Homo sapiens: one gene and its partners. The protein of the gene in region 3 interacts with the protein of the main gene of each other region in a pairwise test. Each region holds a gene or a part of one and is shown on either strand. Other genes may lie near its edges.

Region 1 (3,112 bases), on a different chromosome or scaffold from region 3:
CAGTGACAACGGGCCCCTGGTGAGGGCAGGTGGCCTATTTCAAGGGTAAACAGGAGCCTGGTCCGGCTGGAGCCATGTGTGACGGGACTGAGAAGACTCCGGGTATAAAGGCAGAGTGCAGTGACAATGTGCCCTGAGAGCTGCCCTGGAGAAATGCACTGCAGCGGGTTGGAAATGGGGTCTCTCCAGGTGATGGGAACATGAACGATGGTGCATGTGGAATGGATGCAAAAGTGGGAGAAACTGGAGAACGGGGGCCTTCCCAGAGAGCTGCTGCTTTGAGCCTGGACACAGTAATGAGAAGGAGAGTGACGGGGTGAGTGGAAGGCAAGGGCAGGAGAGGGGCTTCAGGGAAGAATTAATGAACTCGTGGACTAGCGCTTCCTGCCAACAGAATAACTGCCCCATCCCTGAGCCAAAACCCCGAACTTACATGGACCTAAGGGCAGTATCAAAAGTGAGATTTCTAGGATACATGTACAACAAAAGAAAAAATAAATAAAAATTGGACATCATCAAAATTAAAAGCTTTAGTATTTCAAAGGACATCATCAAGGAAATGAAACAGCTCACGGAGAAAAATTTTATAATCATATACCAGTTAAAGGGACTTGTGCCAGGCTATAAAAGGACTCTTACAACTCAATAATAAAAAGACAAATAACCCAATTAAAAAATGAGCAAGTGATCTAAAGATAGCTGTCCTAAGAAGATATGCAAATGGCCAATAAGCTCATGAAAAGATGCTCAATATCATTCGCCATCAGGGAAATGCAAACCAAAATCACAATGAGATGCCACATTACCCCTACTAGGATGGCTAAGTTAAAAGATAGATAATAAAAAGCACTGAGGGATGTGGAGTCATCAGAACCCTCATGCCCTGTTGATGGGATATAAAATTGTGTCACCACATTGGAAAACAGTTTGGGAGTCCCTCAAGGGTTAAATAGAGTTTCATATGATCCAGCAAATCTGCTCCCAGGCATATACCAAAGAGAAATGAAAACATATGTCCACACAAAAACTCATACACAAAAGTTCCTAGCAGCATTATGTATAATAGTCAAGAAGTAGAAACGATCCAAATGTCCACCAATCGATGCATGATAAATAAAATGTAGTACTACCATTCCATACAATGGAATATTACCCGATGAAAAAATAAAGTTGAACACATGCTACAACATGGATGAACTTTGCTTATAAGAACATTGAAAAGAAAATGCCAAAAGAAAAATGAGTTTTAGCTCAAATTTTTTTTTAAGAGGCCTAGCCTGCTCAAGTTATCCTGTTAAAAAAAAAAAAAAAAAAAAAACTCTTCCCATATCTAAGGTGAAAATAAAAAACATTTTTAAAAGTTTAATATAAAGAATGAAATAATTTCAGGTCAAGTTTATTATACAGAAATTATATTAATGGGTGGGATAAATACTTTACAGGAGAGGGTCACACTCTCAGACACTTTGGCTCCCAAAGGGCTTGGAGCTTTTGTGAGGCTGAGCATCTTCCAACCAGGTGCATGCACTGGTTTGCCAACATCCTCACCACGCCCAATCCAGCCCCTTCACACACTGACATCGCCTACCTGGGCCCTCCTTGTGGCCTTAAGTTTTATCTAACCAGTGTACACAACATATTTATAACCAATTAATACGTGTGAGTCATGATTTGTTTAAAATGTCAGCTTTTGTGAACTGAAGGGGATGGGCAGAAGGCAGGATGCTGTCCTTGGTCAGGAATGTGACCCAGATTTTAACACTGCTCCTAGGAAAAAAAAATATTTCCTTTTATGATGCCACTTCCTGGGACATGATGAGCTGAAGATTAAAAACTCTTCAGAGATGTGCGAGAAAAAACAAGCCCAGGGAAAAGTCTGCAGGCATGGTGGAGGAAGAAATTAGGGATGAAATCGCAAGTGGCAGAGCAAGCATGACCAGGCTGAAGTCAGCAGAGACAAGAGGGCAGCGAGGCCCAGCCTCCTCTTCCCTCTCCCACAGCGTTTAGGGCCACGTCCATGGCGCCACCCCTCTCCTTTCTTCCCAACTGAAAAGGGTGCCCTCTTTCCTTCTTTTCTGCAGACGCTGATGAGAATTAACCAGAGGAACTTCCTCCACAGCAACTATAACAGGACATCCTCATCCAGTCCTCCTATCTCATTTCCTGGTGGGGAAACAGGCCTGGCAAGGAAATAGGCCGAAATCACGATTTAAAAAATGTTGTGTTTAAGTACTCTGGAACCCTGTGTTCAGAGGAAATCGTGCAAGAATAGATCAATCAGAGCTGATCTGATGGAGACGGAGGATCCAGCCACACAGAGGCCCTGCATTAACTGTATTTCCTGTACTCTTGATGCTCTGGTATCTGGGGCCTCGCTGACCTGGACAGACTGATCCTCCCAGGCTAGCCAATCCCCCAATCCCTAGAGATGGCAAGCATCTGGCTGAAAGCATGCCTTTCCTATGGAAACCAACTAATCCGGAGCGATGGCGCCAGCTGCCTCCTTCACATGGCTCTCCCAGGGCTGTCACACCCCAGGCCAACATTCACCTGTCCTGACTATCCCGGGGCCAGGTATCAGACAAAAAGGGCAGCCCCTATCCTGAGAGCCACTGAAATTACTCAAGCCAGCTACCCTTAAACCTGTCTCCCCTGCTTACTCTGCCTTGCCCATTTCCTCCTGAGGAAACCAGAGGAAGTCTCTTGCCCACACGTTCCCCTCCCTCCTTCCGCCTTCTGACCCACCGTGGGGCTTTCCTATGTGGCCCCTCCTCTCAGAACCGTAAGTAACAAACTCTCCTTTCCATGGCAGTCCCCTCCTCATCCAATGGCTTTACCACACCTCGATGAGATGGTTTACAACAGGCCCATTCTAGAAGTAAACATTATTCCCAGAAATCCTGGAATAGGGATTCAGAAAATTCACATTGTGGAGGTGCCACGACTCGGGAGAGCCTGGCCAGCGAGGTGCCACCCGAATAGCTCCTGACCATGGGCACAGAAGGGACCAAACATGGAGAGAGGCACAGCCTGGAGTCATGGAAAAGGACCAGGCAGGACAGGAGGAAGAGCCTGGCAAGGAGGCAGGGGCGCAATAGTGCCCAAGCAGTGT
Region 2 (7,065 bases), on a different chromosome or scaffold from region 3:
TTGCTCGGGACACCGCAGCGGAGACGGCAGGGCTGCAGGGGAGTGGATGCCAAGCTGCCTGGCTCCCTGCTCCTCTAACTCACCCTGGTCCTGGCTCCTTGGGGGAGCCCCCCGGACTCTCTGTCCCCATCTGAGTGCCCACCTGAGGGCCCCATGCAGCGCAGCTGCTCTCCACAAGCCTCAGTGGTCCCTTCAGCCACCAGGACTCTGACTCCCCAAGAGGGAGAACCCTGTGCCAGGTTGCCCCCATTCCTGGGCCAGGCACGGGCTCTCCAGGCTTGACCTATATGGGGCCTTGCCCCTGCTGTCAGCAGCTCATGTGCTGGGTTGGGCCACGAGGGCCGAGGCCAGGCCTCCTGTGGAACACCCAGCAGAGATGTAGCCTCAGGATCCCTGACCTCTGAGAGGGAGTAGAGCCAGGGGCACTATGGGGCTGGGACTCCCCCACACCTCAACTCCCAGAGCCTGCCATGTGACCATGAGGCCACAACATCAGGGGTGGAGCAAGGCTGGCGCTCTGTCCCTGCGAGTCCCGGGGGATCACACCCAAACCAGCTTGGCAAGGACTCTGGCTGCTCCACTTCCTGAATGACAACACACACTCAGAGGGGCGATGCCTTGCTCCTGGTCACGCTGGATCCAGATTTTGAGGCCACTTTCCCTCCTATACCTCAACTCAGGAAAGAAACAATGCGGGGAGCTGTCCCTAGGGAGCGAGAGCTCAGGCTTGGCCCCAGCCTCAACCACCGCTGCCCCAACCCAACCCGCGCCGAGCCCCTGGCCTGAGGGTGTGGGAACCCCAGCTGCTGAAGGAGCTGCATACAGGTGTCTGGAGGCGCCTCTCAAGTCAGCCAGCGTGGCAGGTCAGGAGGAGACAGGGCAGGGGACGTGAGGGCAGGGGATGCAGGGTGGAGGGCGCACAGCGGGCTGGGTGAGTACCATGTTGATGCCCATGGAGGTGAAGCTGAGGCTCGTGGTGCTGGGTTCCAGGTGTCCCCGGTGATGAGAGACTGACAGGGGACGGGACAGAAGGGGACTCCTGAATGTCCCCTAGGGCTGCCATCTTCCCTGAGACCTGCTGAAGGTGTCACACCTGGGACCTGGGGAAAATGAAAACCATGGCAGATGAGGGGATTGGGAGGAATGTCGGGGGGATGGTGCAGGAGGAGGCAACATGCCAGCTCTCCAAGGGGAGATGGAGGTTTATCCACTCCAGGAGGAGCAAGGATGGAGGATGAACCCACAGAGACACATAGGCCTGGGGTGAGGCAGTTGGGGGACCTGGCACATTTATTCAGTAAGGAATAACGCTTTGAGTGGCTGGGGACGGTGGCTCATGCCTGTAATCCCAGCACTTTGTGAGGCCGAGGTGGGTAGATCATGAGGTCAGGAGTTTGAGACCAGCCTGTCTAATATGGTGAAACCCCATCTCTACTAAAAATATAAAAATTAGCTGGGCGCAGTGGCGGGCACCTGTAATCCCAGCTACTTGGGAAGCTGAGGCAGGAGAACAGCTTGAAATCAGGAGGTGGAGGTTGCAGTGAGCCGAGATGGCGCCCCTGCACTCCAGCCTGGGAGACACAGCAAGACTCAAACAACAGCAGCAGCAGCAGCAGCAGCAAAGGAGTAACGCCTTGGAAGGCGCGCTTAGGAAGCAGCCACCGCCTGGGCGGCACAGCAGACGCCTGTGGGGGCTGAAGCGAAGCTCCTGTCCCAGCAGAGGCTCTGGCATCTCCTTCCAGCCCGTGGCATCACCCCTCCCCCAGAGAAAGGCATAGGGAGTCTTCCAGAAAAACCTCAGCTGCTGGCCCTGTGGGAGGGCTGAAAACCGAACCATGCCTGCTGCGCATGAGTGTTTTGGAGGAAATCTTAATAAGGTTTTTCCCGAACAGCAGAGAAGAGACGTTTCCAGAGGGCAACTCTCTTCCTCAGACCCTACAGAGCCCTCAGAGACTGCAGGCTGGAATCCCCTAGTCCAGCCCTGCAGCAGCACTGGGAGACTCACTCAGGGCTCCAAGACACTTCTTAGTTTACTTTGCAAAAACGGCTTGAGTCCAATGTGAAAAGTGACTTTTCTTTCATACTGTGATAGAGTAGGAACTCCTAATCTGGGGCAGGGAGTGAAGAAAGGAACGGGAAAAGAGGACAAAAGTTAACGGATACTCAGATCTAAGAACAGCAGACAGTGCCTGCTTCGAGGAAGTGGGAGAGGCAGCTCCCACACGGCCGCCACCCCAGTGCCCGGCTTCTGGGCCAGCCTCCATCCCCTAATGATGGGAAGGGTCAGGTCACCAGGTAGGTGGCCACTGGGTGCAGGTCCTCCACCCTGAAGTCACATCTCAAGTTACTTAGTTAACTTACTGGGGACACCTGGTAAAAGGGCCTGCTCGATCACCCCGACCCTGGCTTGGCCCCCAGGACTGAGCAGAGGCGACCATCACAGCGTGGACGCCCCTTCACCCCCAGGGACGCACAAACTCTGAGCTCCAGACTGAAGGGGGAAGGGCACTCCTGCCAGCGGCTCGGGGGAAGCATCCTCTGCCCCTCTGTTCCCAGCCCCGTGGGAGCGGACCCAATCGCCGGGAGCTCGGCACAGAGCGCGTCCGCCCGGCGGTGCGGCGCTGGGGTCCGGCGGCTCCTCGCTCCGGAGCGGCGGGACCTCCGGGCCTCAGTTTCCCATCTGCAGAGTGGCGATGACGACAGCTGCCGTCACTGGGTGCCTGGGAAAGGCGCCCTGCGAACGGACACCCGCTATCGCCAGGGCCGCTGGGCGGGGCGGTCCGCTGCTGCTCCGCGACCCCCAGGAGCCCACCCCGCTCCCCGGGCTTGGCCCAAGGCCAAGGTCACGGCGAGCGGCGGCTGCAAGGGCCGCACGGCCCGGCTGGGCAGGGCTGCACCGCGGAGTACGGCGCACGAGCTCGGACTGGGCTGGTCCCAGGCACCCGGAGCCGCCGCCGCCGCCCGCGCCCACTCACCTTCCGAGCGGGAGGAGGACGCCGCGCGCCGGACGGAAGTGTCCGGCCCCGCCCCACTCCGCCCGGCCGGCGCGCACTTCCGGGACGCTCTGGGCCCCGGGAGGACCGCACGCCTCGGTGGCCGTGTGGGGGCGGGGCCGGGAGCGAAGAGGAGGCCTTTCCCCGCCCCTCCCCTCGTGGGCTGCGCCCGCGCGTGGCTTTCGCGTACACGCTGGCCCGGATCCCGCCCGCGCCTGCAAAGCGCCCGGGCGCGGGGAGCGGCGCTGCGTGGGGCGCAGAAGCCGGCGCCTCGGAGCCTCCTTCCCGACGCCGGCCCTGCACCGCCCGGGGAGCCAGCGCGGGGCCGGGCTTCGGGAGATGACGGCGCCGTCCCCACGCTGCCCGCGGCCCCTCCGTGCACTCCAGGCCTCCGGGGGTCCTCGGCTGGAGTTGCTTCCACGTTCAGCTCGCGAGTCCCCCCCGCCGCCCTCTTGGGTTCCCTCCTCGGGATGTGTCCGCAGCGATGGTCACCGGCGGCCGGGAACCGCTGCGAGACGCGCGACCTCCCGCTCCCCTCGCGGGGGCCCCAGCGCCCTCGATTCTGCCTGCTTTCCAGGGGCGTCCCCGGGAGCCTGAGGAGGATGTTACAGGTTCCCCAAAGCCCCTTCATGGACTCCTTCCTCATTTTCCTCTTGTTCAGCCACAGTTTCTCCCTCAGTTCTGTGCTTACGACCTGAAAAGAGAAAATTGTCACTTTCTGGGAAAAATAAACGGCCGGGGAGGGTTCTTTGACCGTTTTGAGCAGGGGTGCAGAGAGCCGAGGCGAGGGGACCCCTGAGCTGGAGGGGCACGCGGAGCAGAGGGCGGGGGGGCCTGCAGACGGGCAACAGCTGCCAGGGTGGACGCTCAGGGCTGTGTGGGTGGAGGAGCCCCCAGGCTGATAATATGTAAAAATCTCTAAACTCTACCGCAAGAAAACAAACATTCCAGTTAGAAAATTGGCAAGAGCCGCAACAGACGTTTGACCGAAGAGGGCACAGGGATGGCAATAGGCTCGGGAAGGGATGGCTGTCAGGGAAGGGCCGGCCAGCATCGCGGTGGGTGCCACTGCACACTTGCCAGGTGGCTCAGGTAAAAACTGCTAACAAGTGCCAAGCATCACTGAGGTCGCGGAGCAGCTTGGGACATCGCCAGTGGTAAGGCAAAGTGGTGCTGCCATTCTAGAAATTGGCTTGGTAGTTTCTTAAAAAGTTATAAGTAGCGCCGGGCGCAGTGGCTCACGCCTGTAATCCCAGCACTTTGGGACACTGAAGTGGGTGGATCACCAGAGGTGGGGAGTTTGAGACCAGCCTGACCAACAGGGAGAAACCCCATCTCTACTAAAAATATAAAAAAGCTACCCGGACACGGTGGCGGGCACCTGTAATCCCAGCTACTTGGGAGGCTGAGGCAGGAGAATCACTTGAACCGGGAGGCGGAGGTTGCATTGCGCCGAGATCGCGCCACTTCACTCCAGCCTGGGCAACAGAATGAGACTCTGTCTCAAAAAAAAAAAAAAAAAAAAGGAACTAGTACTATATCTGATACTGTTTGGAAGTGAGCCCCCTGCACATCTCATGGAAATGTGGCCCCTGATGGTGGCGGTGGGACCTGGTGGGAGGCTATTTGGGTCATGAGTAGCTTGGTGCCCTCTCCTTGGTGATGAGTGAGAGCTGGCTGTTAAAAAGAGCCTGGCGCCTCCGCCCCTCTCTTGCTCTGGCTCTTACCAAGTGACGGATGCCCTGGCTCCCACTTTGCCTTCTGCTGTGAGTAAAAGCTTCCTGAGCCCTCCCCAGAAGCCTCTTCTTGTACAGTATGACCAGGGACAGCAGCACCCTCTGAACGCTGATCTGAACTGTGAGCCAAGCAAACCCCTTTTGTTCTTTATTTACTTTTGAGATGGAGTTGCCGCTCTTGTTGCCCAGGCTGGAGTGCAATTGGTGCGATCTCGGCTCACTGCAATCTCCGCCTCCCAGGTTTAAGTGATTCTCCTGCCTCAGCCTCCCAAGTAGCTGGGATCACAGGCATGCGCCACCATGCCCGGATAATTTTGTATTTTTAGTAGAGACGGGGTTTTGCCATGTTGGCCAGGCTGGTCTTGAACTCCTGACCTCAGGTGATCCACCCGCCTCAGCTTCCCAAAGTGCTGGGATTACAGGCGTGAGCCACTGCGCCCAGCTCCTCTTTTTTCTTTTCTTTTTTTTTTTTTTGAGACGGAGTCTCGCTCTGTGGCCCAGGCTGGAGTGCAGTGGCGCGATCTTGGCTCACTGCAAGCTCCGCCTCCCGGATTCATGCTATTCTCCTGCCTCACCGTCCTGAGTAGCTGGGACTACAGGCGCTCACCAACTTACCCAGTCTCAGGTATTCCTTTATAGCAGTGCAAAATGGACAAACACAGAACTACATCAGGAGAGCGGCGGACGACAATGCAATTGACTCGATGACAGGCTGCAGCTGCATTGCACCAGGCTGTGCAGACTCATTTTTGGGGGCAGCTGTGTCTTTGTATGTAGTTCTTGACGTCCTGTCACACGCACAGGCTGTTCTGTCACACACACAGGCTGTTGTCACCAGCTCCCTGTGCATCCAGCGCATCACGGGAAGCTGAGTCACCCAAGCTACCGTCCATGTCGGCTGACCCATGAGAAGCTGTGGAGCGTCTCACTCCCCAGGCCCTTTGGACAAATCCTCAGCCTGGCCAGCTCACAGGAGTGAAGGGAGATGGGAACGGGTGTAATCAGAGTGGAAGAATCCCCTTCCCCCACCAGGGAGGTGTGAAGGTGACGGGCAGGGCTTTGGAGGGAGTGCAAAGGTTGCTGATTTAATGAGCTCGGAGCCAGCAGCCAGTCTGGTCTGTTGGAGCAGCAGGTCCCCGCTCCTCACCTCGAGCAGGGTTTTGTTGGGTATTCACTGTAAATAATGAGCTAGTGTTTGTTATGCTGGGAGGAGGGGTTCCAGCCCAAACAGCCCCAGAGCCCCTGGTCCTAAGACGTGGGAGTCGGCCCACAGCCAGCCCCCCCAGCCTGTTGTCTTGATTTGTCCTCTTGGACTGTGGATTAGAAAAGGCCTCCATGGGCTTCTTTTGTTGAGATCGGGGAATCCAGTGCCTGTTCAGATACCCACACAGGCATGGCCTGCTCCAGCCAGTGCTGCTGGGGTTGGGGTGAGGGTGCCATCTGGACGGGCAGTGCCCTTGTCTCTAGGGGTCCCTGTGGGAACCTTCAAAGCTTCCCTGGCAGGAGGGCTGGTCAGAGACCCCGAGCCACTGGAGTAGAGAGGCTGAGAGCACTTCCTAGACCACACCTGGAGATGAGGGGCTTAGAGGAGTGGCCAGGCTTAAGGTCCAAGAAGGCTTCTCTAAGGGGCAGCATCAGAGAGAGATAGGGGTTGGAGCAGGAAGGAGGGAGGGGAGGCAGCAGAAGGGAAGGGCCAGCCCATCACAGAGAGGCAGGAGGGGCGCAGGGGCAGAGGTCTGATGCCTGAAGGAGTTGCCTGGGGTTCGAGTTTGGAAGACCAGGCAGGGGAGTGTGGTGAGCAAGGGGAGGACAGAACGGGATGGGGACAGACCGAACAGCCTTGACACCTCCACTGGGGGCTCAGACGTCATTCTCAGGGCACTGCGGGGCACAGGGGTCTGCAGGGAGGGAGGGAGGAGAGCTGACATGCACTGAAGATCTGCCTGGGGCTGTGGGGTAGAGAAGAGCAGGACAGAAGGGAGAGGGGGTCAGTGGCTGCAGTCCCCTGCACGTGACACAGCTGGCAGAAGTCCGCCTAAGTCCCAGGCCGGGATGCGGATGATGAGGAAGCTTTAGGCCTGGGCTGGTGGGGCAAAGACGGGGCCACTCTGGGTGTTGTCCTCAAGAGTGGAGAAAGGCAGTCAAGCACACTTGCCTCTCGCCAGCGCCAGCCACCGTGTCGCCTTGCTGGCTTGGTTGCAGGGGAGGGAGAGCTGGGAGGGTTCTGGTTAAGTGTGTGAAGGCATGACCAGTCTCCATCCCCACATCTCCAGCCACCGCAGAGGCTTGTTCCCGCACCGCTCCATGCCTTTCCAGCTTCTGGAACCCCAGGCGTC
Region 3 (8,824 bases):
TTTAATTTTTTTCTTAAAGCAGTGAATATCTCCTTGTTTCCTTCTGGTTGCAGCTAATAAAAAAAGCAGATGATGGAATGTGAATTAACACAAGTAAAATATATTTTTTCTAAATGGCCATTTTTTTAAATACTTGCCATAAATAAATTGAGACAACAGGTTTTTTTGTATAGTGATAGTGCGTTCCACTGCTATTACAGTAAATTGAGAAAATACTCCCAGTGATTTAATCCCCAAGATGTTGATATTTGAAACACCGATGGCAATCTTCAGTGAGAGGATTGCTTTAAATATTTTTTTTTCATCTAAATGTACTTAGTATGGGACAACTTGGAAATTATCTCACTCACCCAGACTTTTAAAATCGTTTTTTCACAAATTTATCCTGCTTTATTAATAAATTATTCCCTAGGAGCTTTGTAATACTTTTTAAGTTTGGGCAGGGCGATAATAATATTTAGCATAATATTTTGGTAAACTCTTCATGGGAACAAAATCTTGGGGGTTTTACTTTAAAAAACTCTATTATATTAGAAAATAATGTGTTCATCTGATAATCAGTTTTACTAGAGCCAGCATTGTTTGCTTGTGCATTAGATAAACCACAGAGTGAACTTATTTGGAATGTAGCTTTTAATATAGTAATTTATGTCTCATCTTTAATAGGTGAACCGTTTTGAAATGGAAATTTATTATTTATAGTCATTATGAAGAAAGATACGTATCATGGCAGAAGCCATTAAGGCCTTAGCACAGTTTAAAACTGCCCTGTAACATGGATTTTATTTGGGCCTTACATTTTTTTCCCTTTTCTCTTTTTTAAAGCCATTGCTCATAGGGATTTAATTACAGTAGGGACTATTTTTAACATTCTTTAGTTTCTTTTTCACCTGATTTCAACCTTCAAGAAAAGTGAAAATCACCAGTTTCCTGGGAAACCATTAACCCTTTCTAGATAGCCATTGTGGTAAAATCCAGTAGGGCCTCATTCTGAAATCCTCGAGTACATGCTTATTATTTGAAATTAAAGTTTTATGTAGAGAAATGGATAACTCCTAGGCTGACTGTGAGAATATATTTAATCAAGAATTAGTGGGGGATCTGTTATGTGTAGGGCTTTGCTTTAATGCCAAACCAAGTAAGGAAGAAATAAATTAGAATAAAGCATTTCTTAGATTGTTTCACATTTATGTTTAAAAATCTTACTTTTCAAAAATAGTAAACATACTCTAGAGCAAAAGAATTTGTGTTATAAATAGTAGAGGAAATAGCCACATACATGTTTGTTTTGTAGGTAATTTGCACAGAGACTGTTTAATACTCCAGTCAAATGTTTCCGATAGATATAACTGTACCATATTTTACATTATTGAATTAGCCTTCTAAATAGAGTTTTAAACATTTAAAGGCATATTATATAATACTTAAGAGTCTTTGTCCTTTGGTATTGAGTGTATATAGCACTGCATGTCCTTTTGTCAATTTGGCCAAAACATTTGGAGAAGTGAAGTAGCTGAAATAATAAGCATTTGGCTTATTAGGTTCACGTTAGCCAGAAACACTTCCTGTGTCAGTATTAGGCTTTCTAATAGCAAGTTGGGATTATATTAGATTTTGGAATTAGGTTAACTAGAATTAGACCATGTATGATAAACGTACTATGTTGTAATCTGAGTTTGAACTGTTTTTCCGTAAATAGAAAGCAAATTTTTATGGTTATATCATTTAGTGCCTCATAAAAAATATACCCAGTGGTGAGTTATTTTTGATAAGTGTAAATAAACATATGTTCACCCCATACATTTTACGTATGTATATGTATGTACACACACACACATATATATATATATAAAATTGGAAAACATTCTAGAAATAAATGGAAGCACTGGAAAGCTGTGTAATATTAAGCCATCTAATGTTTGTTTATATAGATGTGGTGTATACATAATATAAAAATTTGCTTATTATTCAGTTGGCCTGTGTAAAAATCAGCTAAATGACTGCATACTTGCTTCAACTTAATTTCCCTCTGCTTTCTCACTTAAAACTTTATGATCCTGAATTATATATTTTAAACACATTATGATACCATACCTAGAATTCCTCTCCTTACAAACTTTTGTAAATTTGTCATTTTTCCCCAAAAGACCTTCTCTCTTCCCCTCTTTCAACACTCTGTCCCTCTATGTTGCCTCTGTACTTCGTACATATGTATATTAGTTTTAAAATCATATAATATTGTGATTATTTACTTATTTCTATGACCGCTATTCTGTAATTCCCTACTTTTGTTTGTATGCCTAGCACAGTGCTTGATGGCAAATGCTCTACAAATGTGGTTGAATTAATGGAGCCTCATTACCTCATTTTTTTGTTTTCTCTGAATTTATGCATTTGAGATCATTAGCTGTATTAGAAAAAAAGGCCGAAAAAGAGTATGGGAAAAGTAAATTATTACCCGTTTAAGAAGGCTTACCTTTTTTTTTAAGAAAAGACAAAAATTGGCCTCATTTTTGACATGTTTTGTTTCTGCAAGTTTGAGAAATAACTTAGATCAGGCTTAAAAACTGTCCTAAAGTGCTGTTGGGATGTTTGGATGTGCTTGGCCTCTGAGTTATGTGGTGTATCTGAAGACCCGTGTTATATCCACAAGAAGGTAGACATTTGTGTGTCTGTCTTTTTTGGCATAGGAAGCTCAAAATTTAGGAATATGTATCTCCAGCTGTTTATCAGTTTTAAGTCTTTAAATTGCTCTCCCTTTCCCCCATGGTTCCACATTAGTGCCAAGGGTGAGGAACTGACTAGGGATAAAGAAGTGAAATTGATCAGGAAAGGGTAAACAGCAGCAGATTCCGTGATTTTATACTGCAGCTGTTGGTGACTGAGAACTGCCTAAGGGGAAAGTGTAACAATTTAGCCTTTTCTCTGGTGTTGTATAACTTGAACTTGACTAGTCTTACCCAGTTTGGGGAAATGATTGGTAAAGACAAGCCTGCTTTTCTTCTCCATCTTTCAGTAGGAACAGGAACGACATTAAAAATGCCAATTTAAAAAATGCTTCACCCCATGTAAGAGTAGTAGTTTATTTCAGATAATGTACAAAATGATCTCTAAAGTGAGTAATAATTTATTTGCAATTCTGCCATTAAATAACAGCTGCTAAAATTTTGGTCTACATGGAAACCTTTCTTATGATGTTGGTGATGAAACATATTCATTTATTAGATTTTTACTGTATGCCAAGCACTGTTATAAATGCTTTATGAAAGCATTATGTAGTTTATATATATACATGTGTTTCTTCTCAGTGGAATGGAATTGCACAGTGGGTACAATTGTAGCTTAATGTGAATATTTTCTTAAGTCGTTAAATATTCTAGAATATAATTTTTAGTGGCTACATTATGTTCAGTGTATGATATACATTAGTTGTAATCAGTCTCCTATTGTTGGATATTTTAGTTATTTTTAAACAATGTTGCATACCATCCTGAGTTCTGTCTCCATCCAGATCTCTTACTTTTCCCTTGAGATAGTCTAAGAATGGAGTTAAAAGAGAGGAAAATATTTAATTTTATTCTTTCTGTTAAATTGCCCTCTAGAAAAGAAGTATTTAGTATATGAGAGTGCTTAAACTTTGAAATGTCTGTACAGTTGTCTGAATTTTTCTTTGCCAATTTTGAAGGTAGAAAATGAAGTCTTATTTTTTAAATGCTTTATGGTAAAATAAAATTGATTTAAAAACTTATTAGGTTGTTTTGCGGTAACTAGAATGTTTTTAAATGCTATATTATAAATAGAATTTAAGTGCTCATGTAAAAGCCATTTGTACATCATTTATTTAACTCTTACCATCTTCTGTGCAGTATGGTATAGTCTAAAGAACACTGGACTTGAAATTGGGAGATGGATTTCTTTTGTAGCTATTTTTAATTTATTCTCTAATCCTGGGCTCTGTAGGCCTCAGTTTGCTGATTTATAAATTAAAGAATTTGGACTAAGCATCATATGTGCCCTTCCTTTGTTGATGGTGTATGATTTAGACTTTGTTAATTTTATTATATTGTTATTTTTGACATACTTAAACAAAAGACTTAAGAGTAGAAGTGGTAGGAAGATTAGGTAAAAGCATGCATTTTGAACAATTAAGATACAAAATTTGGAAACAATTGGTATATTAATAGTCTTTTAAGACTTACTTTGGGCTTAATAGCCATGTATCTTTGATGACACAAAATTTTGTACTACTCAATTTTGTTTTTTATGTATTTATTTATTTTAAAGAGGCAGGGTCTTGCAGTGTTGTCCAGGCTGGAGGGCAGTACAGTGGTATGATCATAGCTCACTGCAGCCTTGAACTCCTGGGTTCAAGTGATCTCCCACCTGTGCCTCTTAAGTAGCTAGGACGACAGGTGTGCCACCACACCTGGCTAATTTTAAAATTTTTTGTGGTGATCGGGTCCTGCCCAGGCTGGTCTCAAATTCCTTGGCTCAAGTGATCCTCTTGCCTTGGCCTCCCAAAGGGCTGGGATTACTGGCATGAGCCACCATGCACAGCCCTCATTTTAAAAAAGAGAAAAAAAGTATGGCCTCCATCTGTGGATGAATAAGTAAACAAAGGCTATTGGGCTTAAACACCAACTTGATTAGTTCTACAAGGAATATGCTAACAAGATACCAGTCTTTATGCTTTACTTACAGAAGTAAGTTTTTTACTAGGTCACTTATACAAATCAGTAATGTAACACTAGGGGATAACTGTATATTAGTTTAAGAAGTTAACTCAGGTAATGAATTTTGTTATTCTTTAATGTTTAGATTTATGATAAGTATTATGTCATAGCTGCATCTCAGAATCCAGAACCAAAATTATTACATATCTGTGAGATTGTGTTTTTGCGATACTCAGAATGAAAAACAGTTCATTAATAATGGATTTCACGCTAAGGTATTATGTTGCTGTAGACAAAGCATTCTTAAAATTCAGAGTGTTTGCGGGCTTGAAGGAAAATGTGACGTTCTTACTAATCTCAACCTGAACATTCATAATTAAAGGAAGTGTTAACAAGCTATGACAGTATTAGAGGTACTTGTGACAGCAAATGTGTTAGTTTTTATTGCTGCTTTAACAACGTACTACAAATTGGGTGGCTTAAAAAGCAACAACAAGTTTATTGTCTCACAATTACTAAAGGTCCAAAATCAAAAAGTTGGCAGGGCCATGTTCCCTCTAAAACCAGTAGGGGAATCCTTTCTTTTGTCTTCCTTGCTTCTGGTGGTTGTTGGGAACCTTTCACATTCCTGAGCTTGGAGCTGCATAATTCCATGTCTTCATCATCACATGGCGGTGTTCTCCCTGTGTGTTTCTATCTTCATTTGAGTGATACCAGTCATTGGATTAGGAGCCTACCCTACTGCAGTATGACCTCATCTTAACTAATAAGGTCATGGGGCTAGGACTTCTACATGTATTTTGGGGGAGACACAGTTCAACCCATAACACCAATAGAAACTACGGATTTTTTTTTTCTTATAGCACAATTGCTGTTAGCTGTTACAGCTATCTTGAAATACCATTTATAGTCATCACTAATTTGAAATTATTATAGTTATTAAAGCTATTGCTAGAGCATATATTTTAAAGTGTTAATAAAGAACCGCATTATTACCATATCAAAATGAAAAATATTTCAATAACTATGTCAATATAATTAATTTCTTTTGTAATACTGTGTATGTTGTTTTAGGCCCCTAATATTGTTCTGAGAAAGGGGTCATAAGCTTTACCAGGCTGCCAAAAACATCCATGACACAAAAGGCTAAAATCTTCTGCAATGGACAGAAGCCCAGAAGCCTGAACCCAAAGATAGAGATATAAAATAGGAAGAGTAAGAAACATGAGGATAAGATGAGTAACTCCAACATACAGCTAACAGTTCCAAAAGAAGAGAATAGAGGAGACGAAATATTACAAATAGTGGCTGCAAATTTTTAAGAACTAGCAAATCAAACCTCACTCAGCGAACTAGAACAAAACAAAGCCTCACAGTCAAATGGGGTTTATCTTGAGGATGTAAGAATGGATCAACATGAGAAAAGCAGTGCATTTTATCACATTTGAAGATTAATGGAGAGAAATGATACGATCTTAATAAATGCCAGAAATGTCATTTAATCTCTGCCCATAATAAAGTAAATGTTCATAAATATAGAGACAAATTATTTTTCTGCTCTCTAGAATTTCAGATTTTTAATTTTTCTGATTTAAAACGAGGGTGTGGGATTTACTTAACTTTGGGATTTTAGTCCAAGAGTTCTAGAATCATAACTGATTTTTTTGTACTTCTGAATTAATATATCATTTCTGTTACTCAGATGTAGGATTGACTGGTGGAAATTGCCTTGTGTCTGAAATTTCTGAATTACCTTGCAAGGCATTTCTTTCTGTGTTTGGAGAGCAAAGAATAACCTTTAGTAAATTCAAGAGTAATTGGAATTAAATTTCAGCCTAATATCAGTTTAATAATTTTATGTCTAAATTTAATCTGTATGACAGGAGTTATAATTTGTTTTTGTTTTTGTTTTTGTTTTTTTAATTTATTTTTTAGACGGAGTCTTGCTCTGTCTCCCAGGCTGGAGTGCAGTGGCGCCATCTCGGCTCACTGCAAGCTCCGCCTCCTGGGTTCACGCCTTTCTAACAGGAGTTATAATTTGGATAAAGGCCATTATGAACTTGGAATGTGGAATGTAATTCTTTTTCCTGGTAGTATTTAGTGATACTATTGCATGTGATTAAACACATTTTGCTTGAGCTGTTCATGTAGTTAGGAATTACATTCACAAATACAGTGTTTTTTAATGACTTCTATATATTAGCATCCCGTGGCAGGATTGCCAAAAATTTAGATAAAATTTAGTGAGTTGTGTCTTTTCTGATGCCACTTTTTCAAAGTTACTGTAACTTTTACCACTTCAGAGTGTTTTTATTCACTTCAGCACAGTCACCAAACTCTTTTTTTTTTTTTTTTACTGTTTTATTGTGTTATTTTTATACTGTGAGATTGGGGAGTTCTGGGGTTTCCCCCCTTAATATGTAAAAGCAGTATTAAACATTTCAGAATTTTAGTTGCTGGATTATATATATTGACTTTTTACACTTTCAGGATAGATTTGAACAGGGACCATTAATAACTTTTTCCTAAAGAAATTCAGTTCAGTGGCATTTGAATGAGTGCTTACTAGGCACTTGACTTTTGCCTTAGCTTTGGAGATACAAAGATAATTAAAACTTTAAAATCGCTATCACAGTCCACAAGGGAAATAGATACTTCTGAAATGTGATGGGTGTTCTGGTTATAAAGTTCTTCAAGGCTCAAGGAGAAAGTGATTCTACCTGGGAGTTGGTGGCAGGATGGTGACTGTGTGAAGGAAGGCTTCAGGAAAGAAGTGGCATTTTAAGAGTCAGCCATGAATGAGAGCATGGAATGGGGGAAGGGTATTCCAACCAGGAAGAGAGGGGGCAGAAGACAAGCACAGAAAGAAGAAAAAGTTGGAGGAAAGGCAATACCTTTTTGGATACAGTTGTTTGGAGGAGTTGTTAAGGAAAGTGTTGAGGGACCAGATTGTGAGTAGTGTAGATTTGTGCTTACCTGTATATCACCAACTGTGGGGCAAGGGATGGTGGCTAGGCCTAAAATATGAGACACAATATGAGCATGGCAGAAGCCCCTGGAAATCAGTTTTTCTTGAAAAGTTGAATATTTATCTGACTGGTTAGTAATAAGATGAATTTTGAACAGAGTTCCCATTAATTTTATAGATGAAACACCGAAGAGTTGAAAGAAAATTTGTTCTTTGAGCTACCTTCCCTCCTCACCACAACTATCTTTAGTCAGTAAGGATACTTAATGAGAGACACCAGGTGAAGTTTTCATCATGTAGACAGTGGCGACTCAGTATTTTAAGTGAGGGAATGATAATCCAATTTGTGTAAAGCAGGGCTTCTTAGGACAGTTGACTGGAGGGAGAAGAAAATGAACTTCAGTTGATGAGGAAGAATGTAGTAAGACAACAAAACAGAGCTGGGAATAGAGCATTTGGAACTATTGGGGACTCATATGAGAAGAAATTCAAATGTCCAACGATTATTTGACTGAATGTGAAGGAAGGAGTAGGAAGGTTGTGGGATGACTTGAACATTTTAAATTTAGGCCGCTGTAATGCTTTTAAATGAAGGTGGGAATAGAGATGAACCCGGTTTTTTAAATGGGAAAATAACCCAGTTTTGATCTTTTTTAGTCTGGGTGCTTACTGGATGTCAAGGTAGAAAGTGTCCAACAAGGTGCTTTAACTATAGGTTGAGTTCTCAAAAAGGTTAAGAGGGTAGAGTTATAGTGACATCTTCAGCATATATAGTAGTTGAGGCCAGTGGAAAATTTCCCATTGAGAATATTAAGTAATAATGGAAAGATGACAAGTGAGAAACAGCAGTGTTTTTAAGGGAGAGTAGAAGAAAGAAGAGACGCCAAAAGACGGAAGTGGCTTAAGTGGTAGGAGAGCTCTGAGAGGAAAGTATTTTAGAAGCCAAGGGAAAAAGGAGTATTGAGAAAGCGTTAGATATCACAGAAAAATTAGATTGGTGATTTCTAAGACAAGGATATAACCGTTAGGATGTCATTGACCTTTGTGGGAGTAATAATGGGGACAGAAGTCAGGTTTTGCTATAGGTTGAGGGTGTCCAATCTTTTGGCTTCCCTGGTCTACTTTGGAAGAATTGTCTTGGGCCACCTATAAAATACACTAACACTAAAGGTAGCGGATGCGC

What was found. The genes of interacting proteins can lie anywhere in the genome.
Region 1: the proteins of SPRED1 (region 3) and TRIM35 interact in binary tests that used the Homo sapiens proteins (3 or more experiments, as listed by UniProt).
Region 2: the proteins of SPRED1 (region 3) and GLI4 interact in binary tests that used the Homo sapiens proteins (3 or more experiments, as listed by UniProt).

Annotation. Positions count from the first base shown.
Region 1 is NC_000008.11:27,284,371-27,287,482, forward strand, and holds the end of TRIM35 (E3 ubiquitin-protein ligase TRIM35), read right to left. Parts: 3' UTR 516-3,112; downstream 1-515. UniProt on the Homo sapiens protein: E3 ubiquitin-protein ligase that participates in multiple biological processes including cell death, glucose metabolism, and in particular, the innate immune response.
Region 2 is NC_000008.11:143,263,395-143,270,459, reverse strand, and holds the start of GLI4 (zinc finger protein GLI4), read right to left. Parts: upstream 3,016-7,065; 5' UTR 2,976-3,015; intron 1,101-2,975; 5' UTR 1,064-1,100; coding exon 940-1,063; intron 1-939.
Region 3 is NC_000015.10:38,254,987-38,263,810, forward strand, and holds part of SPRED1 (sprouty-related, EVH1 domain-containing protein 1), read left to right. Parts: intron 1-8,824. UniProt on the Homo sapiens protein: Tyrosine kinase substrate that inhibits growth-factor-mediated activation of MAP kinase. Negatively regulates hematopoiesis of bone marrow.